Homo sapiens: one gene and its partner. The protein of the gene in region 1 purifies or fractionates together with the protein of each later gene. This does not show direct contact. Each region holds a gene or a part of one and is shown on either strand. Other genes may lie near its edges. The genes, in order: RREB1 and ARL6.

What was found.
Region 2: the proteins of RREB1 (region 1) and ARL6 purify together in Homo sapiens (affinity purification with mass spectrometry; one large-scale study listed by BioGRID and IntAct). This does not show direct contact.

Annotation. Positions count from the first base shown.
Region 1 is NC_000006.12:7,110,946-7,114,768, reverse strand, and holds part of RREB1 (ras-responsive element-binding protein 1), read right to left. Parts: intron 1-3,823.
Region 2 is NC_000003.12:97,778,016-97,781,838, forward strand, and holds part of ARL6 (ADP-ribosylation factor-like protein 6), read left to right. Parts: intron 1-2,143; coding exon 2,144-2,205; intron 2,206-2,599; coding exon 2,600-2,668; exon of another isoform or gene 2,669-2,672; intron 2,673-3,823. UniProt on the Homo sapiens protein: Involved in membrane protein trafficking at the base of the ciliary organelle. Mediates recruitment onto plasma membrane of the BBSome complex which would constitute a coat complex required for sorting of specific membrane proteins to the primary cilia.

The DNA of each region.
Region 1 (3,823 bases):
CCCCAAATTTTCTGTGAAACTTCGAACTTGCCAACCATGGTACCTCAGAGGCAAATAAGAGCTTACTTGCTTTATGGAATTTCAGATTTCTAAATATATCGCATGCAATACAGGCAGCGCACCCAGTGGACTTGTAGATGAGACCCAGGCCACGACTACTGTACCTTTCAAGCAGGCTTTCTCAACCTCAGCTCTGCTGACGTATGGGGGTCGTTCTGTGCACTCCAAGATGTGGAACAGCATCTTTGGGGTCTATGCACTAAAGGCCAGTAGCAGCTCCCCGCTGCCGCCCCCCCCCCCACCAGAAACACTTAAAAATGTCTCCAGACAGTGCCAAAAGTCCCCTGGGGGCAAACCCACCAGGTTGAGAACCACTTCTTCAAAGAGTAAGCCCCAAGCTTGTCATCAGCTTTTTCCTTAAAACTCATCCCTCACCCTGATCAACATGGTGAAACCCTGTTACTACTAAAAATACAAAAATTAGCTGGGCGTGGTGGTGTGTGCCTGTAGTCCCACCTGCTCAGGAGACTGAGGCAGGAGAATCGCTTGAACCCTGGAGGTGGAGGTTGCAGACAGGCAAGATTGTGCCACTGCACTCCATCCTGGGCGACAGCAAGACTCTGCCTCACCTAAGTGAACCACATTAAGAAGAATTTGCTAGTCCTGTTAGTCTCCCAGCACTAAAAACAAAAACAAAGTGCTGCATTTCCCCAATCTGAACATAAACTCCTAGGCAAAATTTGACTAAGGTAATGGAGGTGTGCAAAATTCTGGAAAGGAAATCCAGAATGGATACCCACAAAGCTTCCTGAGCTCAAAATATACCACTTTCTTCCGTTTATAGATTTTGACTTTCTGGAACATCTACTTTATCCTTACAACAATCTCATGAGGTAGAAAGGCTACTAAAAAGATACATGTCATCACAGTTCATCAACAGAAATGCTACCAAGAGCAGAAGTGCTTTTTAAAATTTCCTTATACCTTCAAACTCAATTAGGTTTATTTTGAAAAGGATCTGGTCTTATTTAAAAACCACACACCATACACATGGAGATAAATAGGCAGTATATATTTAATGCTGCTAAGTCCTCCTGAGGTCAAACTGACTCTAAAAAGCAGCTGTTCTACAGGGCTAGGCTGGAGTTAGGAGTTCTGGGTTCCAAGTTTGATTCATTAACAGCCCCCGGGTGGACCACCGCGCAGCTGTAAAATGGGTCAACATACCCACCCAACTCCCACAGTGTTCCTCTCAGCATGAACGTGGAATCTTTGCTAAAGGCCTCCACAAAAGCAGGGTGAAATTAACTAAGTCCTAGAAGGTATATCTGAATGAAAAAGAAAAATTTTAAAGTGATTAAACCACCAGAAGTATCAGACACTTTCATAACAATTCTATCCCATAGTCTCTGAAAAGGGGGAAAGAGATGAAATACCAAGCAAACTAGAGAAAAACAAATAGAGCATTTAAAAGCTTTATCTAATTACCCCCACTGAGACGTTTTCTCTTCACTCTGGCTGTCTGACAATGCCTGTGGGGGTTTTCATTCTCTTTCTCCACCCACCCTCATGATGTCTGCAAGCCCTCAGGTGAATCCCTGCAGGAGCAGTCAGGACCCAGTCCCCAGTCCCCGGACTTCACAGAGGTTTTCGAATTCTCTTAGCTTTACTGGCTTGAATCACACTGAACAAACAATCTCCACCCTCTCCCATGCTTTCGTCTGAAGCACCTACTCACAGTCAGCCACCTCTACTGATGGGCAGACTGGCTAACTTCAGTACCCTTGAAGTCCCACCAGAAATAAGATGCACCGATCGCTCCCAGTCTCCTCCTCCCCATCCGCTTCACCCCAACCCGCCACTGCCAACGGCAGAGTGCAATCCCCAGCTACACTCGGCTGCAGTTCAGACCACGCTGAACACCAGAGAACGTGACAAGAGAAATTGGGCGGAGCACAGTCGATGACATTGCCGACAGGACTGCTAACAAAAAAGGAAAAACCCCTCTCCACCTTCCTCATTCTTTTACCTCCGTAGTAATGAAAACAACAGTAGTTTTCTTTTCTGTATTCTGCCTTCTATGGGAGTGGGGGAAATGAAAAATAAGTGATGCATTTCAGAGAGCACACCGTATGCCTCCCTCTGGGTTTCATACGGTGTACCTTTTACCTTTGATATAAGGTACCTGCAACCCTGCAACCCTCACCCCCCTGTGGAAATCACTGTCTGACCCTTGCTCTTTGAAAACTGCCATGGCTACTTCTACTCAAAAATCACTGTCTAAATCAGGAAAGAAAGAGAGAAAAGAAACAGAAAGAAAATACATTTATCAATTTCTTAATTATATTTGGACATAAAAAATATGACTCAACACTGCCTGTTCAATAGGTCAGATGTACAGAAATTAACCTTGAAGCAGGGAAACTTTTGGCTTACAACAGGCTTACCATTCAACCAAGAGATGATAGTTACTCATCATGGCTTCAATTAGATTTCAACCATTTTATCTCAATGAAAAACTTCAAGATACTTGAACATACTTTTGGCAGAAATGTAATGTACATCACACCTATTTTTGTTTTCTGACATTTGGCCAGTCCTTCCAAAGATACTCTGAACCTAATATAATTATTTTTAAAAAGATAGCTATGAACTGGGCGGAATAAACTGCACTAGGGAGGTGGAATGAAATGGAGGAGAAGCCCTATCAAAACCTAATCTAAGGGAATGGTAATCTCAGTAAAGGGGGAAAGAAAGCTATTGTCCCCTTATCAGGACAGACTACATTGCATACTTTCTACTGATACTAAATTGCATTTCTATCTTTGAATACAAATCTGTTTCATGCGGAATAAAAGACATAACTTTATGGATTATGCAGAATTTCCAAAACAAACCATGGAATCAGTTATTAATACTAGAAATAAGAGGGTACTATACACACAAATCCTCAGGAAGGTTCAACCTGAACACACTGGTAATAGTCAAGAAGTCCACCAGACAAGCTGCCATCTGACACCACAAGGCTGGTCATAGAGTACTGAACTTCAATTAAAGACACTTACAAAAGAAAGAGATTATTTAAATATAATAACAAAACCAAAACAAACTTTAACATCCTACCTTCCCAGGTCAAAGGACATAGAAGATTCAGAAATTAACTAAACCTAGTAAATAATGTAAAACAGGGAATGACTCCCTTTCAAAAATGCTTTGGTTAATTTTAGCATCCTTCTGTTTAGCTGCTTAGCAACCCTTATCCTATGACCTTCTAAGCACCACCTACTTTTCAGAAGGATAATGAACAGAAACATCAAAAGAATTCACTTCTGTTTCCAAAGAATATATTTAACCAATTCTTATAGGAGTTAAATTTATATTAATTATGCTGAGCAAAATCCTAAAAGGGTAGCATTTTAAAACTTCATTAACTAGGACATTTCCTTAGCTGAAGGTGATAAATGATGTTAGCAAGCAAGCATAAGATAGCAAGCAAAGACTTCCTAACTGACCTCAGAAGTGGAATAACGCAACAGTTCAAAATTGAAGAGCAAAAACGACCTAAGGCAGCTACACTGTACAGTGCCTGGCACACAGCAGGTAACCAATAAACTGCTGTTGATCAGATGCTGGACTAATACGTGTAGGTTTATTTTCTTCCTTCAACACGCTGTACCTGTGTTGGATACAAATAAGGCCTTGGGAGTCTGCCCGAAGAAATTTAAAAGACCCTTCAATCAAAAGGTCGCTTGTTGGATGATGTAACTAGTTAGGAATGGATGCACTACCTGTACCAGCTCAATAAGACGCATGTTCCCCATCA
Region 2 (3,823 bases), on another chromosome or scaffold:
GCTATTTTAATATACATTTTTTGAGACTTCTTTAAACTTTAGCTTCCTATTTTGTTATTGGTGTCTTTTTCCTCATAGTAGTAGCTGATGATTTTTTCACAATGATTGGCACATTTAAAGCCCTTAAAATCAAAATAATGAAGTTGGGGGAACATTAAAACTTAGGAAACTTCTTATTGCAAAGGTTGTTCTGAAATGAAGGAAACCCAAGGTATGAGGCAGGAATCTTAGTGGCAGGAAATGAATTTTGTCTTACATAAACAAAAATATATTTTTGGAAAAATACTAGATCAGATCTTGGAATGGATAGAAGGAAAAGGAAAAAGCTAAGTAAACAAACTTCAGAAAGGCAAAACAAGGGCAGCTCTGGAGGGCCTTTCTACTAGTGCATTACCATGCTATTAAAGTGACCAAGCTCCAGTGAATTTTGAGCTTCTGTCTTTCCTTGAATTTAAATTTCCCAGAAGTAGACTACCAGAGTGAATGTAATAGTGTGAGGCAAAATTTTCCCCTCTAATACTGTTTTTTTATAAAAGCAACAAGATGAACTGAAGGGAGTTTTTTTTAAAGTTATAGTGACAATATGGGAAGAATTGGGGAAGAGACTGAAATCAGTGAGCATGTAATTATAATAATATCAGACATTTGTTGAGCATTTACTGTGTTGAGTATTTTACATCCATTAACTTATTTACTTATCATGATAAGTTTATGAGTAAAGGATAATAATAATATATTTCACATTTGAGAAAACCAGGCTTAGAAAAATTAAGTAACTTGTTCAAGGTAGCAAAGGCAAGTAAGAGCAATTAGGAGGCTGGTACAGTAATTCAAAGCAAGAAATGATAAGGGTCTGAACTAAGTTAGTGAGATAGAACCAAAAAGCTTAGAGAATGATTACATAAAGAATGTAAAAAAAAGGGAGGAGTCAATAATAATTTCTAGGCATCTGGATCAGAAAGTAGATATATTTTTATTCAAACAGAGGAATAGTTTTTCTGATGAAAGTGCTAGGAGGCATTTAACAAGTTAGATTGTTAGTATAATACATTTTAATTGTCAGTGGGATTTGTCAACATGTCTCCTGCTGTACTCTAGCCCCCTTTCAATCTCTTCTCCACGCAGAATTCCCTACCATTGCCTTCAAGCCCTTACCTCAACATATCACTCTTTATCTTACCCGATACACTTGAGACATTTAGGCTTTCTGCATTTCCTCAGTGGCAAGTTCCTTCCTTCCTCAGAATCATTGCACTGACAGATTTCTCTGACTGGACTGTTCTTTGTCAATAACTTGTCATGGTTCTTCCCCTCCTGTCATTCACTCCTGGGTCAGATGGCCCCTACTCAGAGAGACCATTCCTGAGCACTTTTCTTCCATGCCACCTTCCAGCCCCTTTCTGTTGCCTCCCACCCCCAAAACATTTATTTTTGCACTTATCTCTGCTCAAAATTGTGTTCTATTTACATCTTCTAGCTTGTAAACTCCATAAAGGCAGGAACCATCTACACATGAGGGCAGTCTGGAACATATACAAACTCACGTATGTGTTGAAAGATTAGAAAGTATGCCAGGCACGGTGGCTCACTCCTGTAATCCCAGCACTTTGGGAGCCCAGGGCGGGCAGATCACAAGGTTAGGAGATCGAGACCATCCTGGCTAACACGGTGAAACCCTGTCTCCACTAAAAATACAAAAAATTAGCCAGGCGTGGTGGCGGGCGCCTGTAGTCCCAGCTACTCGGGAGGCTGAGGCAGGAGAATGGTGTGAAGCCGGGAGGTGGAGCTTGCAGTGAGCCGAGATTGCGCCACTGCTCTCCAGCCTGGGTGACAGAGTGAGACTCTATCTCAAAAAAAAAAAAAACACTTATTAAACCACTTATAAAACAAACGCTTATGTCCTTGGTAGCATGCCACAAGCCACAAATGTGAATTAATATTATGCAGATTCATAATTAGTAAACCTTAAACTTCTATAAAGAATTCACACAGAGTGATCCTATTGAAAAAATTATATAACTTTGTTAAATCCTATCATCTCCTTAGTGACAGATTTTAGAAACTGAAAATCTGGATACTTTAACTTGAGGAAAACTCATCTCTGGTAATTGTAAATTTCTGAACTTTGTCTTTTCTCTTAAAGGCTCAATCTCAAAATATCCTTCCAACAATAGGATTCAGCATAGAGAAATTCAAATCATCCAGGTAATCCACTTTATCCCTTAACAAAAAAGTTGCTAGTGAAAAATAACAATATTAGGTCTACCTGGTCATTCTTCCTACCCTTAGATAAAGTAATTTGTTGTTTCAGAATCTCATAGGTATTAAAGTGTTTCTAACCACTATGGCTGGTTTATTTTTCAGAATTTAGAGTTTAGACAAACTCTGATAACTTCACTAGCAAAGAAGTTTTTTATGTTATTTATTGCAAAATTGTGTTTATATTAATACATTTATTTCATAGAACTTTTACTTGTAAATTGGCACATGTTGAATATTGCATATGAAGGGTAATTTCTTTGATTGTAAATAATTTAAAATTTTAAGTAAAAGTTATGCTTTAGTTTATAATGTAGTCATGTTTTGCTTCTTTTTGTAGTTTGTCATTTACAGTGTTTGACATGTCAGGTCAAGGAAGATACAGAAATCTCTGGGAACACTATTATAAGTAAGTACATCTGTGAATGTTGCTTAACTAGATGGTTTTTACTAATAATAATGATTAGAAATCCAAAGAATTATATGGCTAGGTTGTTTGGCTTTTTTTTTTCATGTAATTTATGAACATTTCCTATTTTAAAAAATATGTAATGAGACTCAACATTGTTTGTCAAATGTTTCAGGTCCTTCATGACTTCGGGCCTTTGCATGTACTATTCTCTCTGTTTTTAATGCCCCATTCTATCCTACTTCACTTCAGTTTAAGGTTAACATATTCCTGCTTTAAAACTCAGCTAAAAGTCCTTTCCTCTGAAGTTTCACTGTTCTGCCCAGTTATTTTGTCCTTATTGTTCACCTGGCACTTTGTCCATTTCTATCTCTCTAATCATACTTACCATGTCTTGAAGTTATGCACCATAGCCGCCTCCCTAGTGGAAGTGTGAACTCCTCAAGGGAAGGGATTATTTATTATTCATATTATTTTTTCAAGACCTAGTATGATGCTCAGCATATAGGCCAGTAAATATTATTGACTAAATTTAGTTAAAAATAACAGTGTTGCCTAACAGTTGATCCATTGTTCTATGAATAATTTGAAACAAGCCATTTTTCAGCATATGCAAGTCAAGTGCTCACTAATTTACACTTGGTCCTTCATGTCCTTGGGTTCTGCATTCCTGGATTAAACCAATTGTAGATCAAAAATATTTGGGGAGAAAAATGCCATAAAGTTCCAAAAAGCAAAACTTAAATTGCCGTGCACAAACTACTGTATTGAAAGCATATAAATGAGGTCATATGTAGGCATTGTATTACGTATTATAAGTAATCTAGGGTGATTTAAAGAATATGGAAGAATTTGCATATGTTATAAGCAAATACTAAGCCATTTTATATAAGAGACTTGAGCATCTGCAGATTTTGGTATTTGAAGGGGATCCTGGAACCAATCCCTCGCCAATTCGGAGGGATGACTATACTTCAGACTAATAGCTGTCAAGTTACTAGGACCCAAATGTGTTATACCTTCTGGAGATTTGCATATGGTAATAAAATAAATTCATTAGCTTCTAATATTGTTAGGACTTCATTTAAGAGCAATGTATTTCACTTTTAGAGTCTGAAACTTAAAAACACTATCTCTTAACTAAACTCTCTTTTG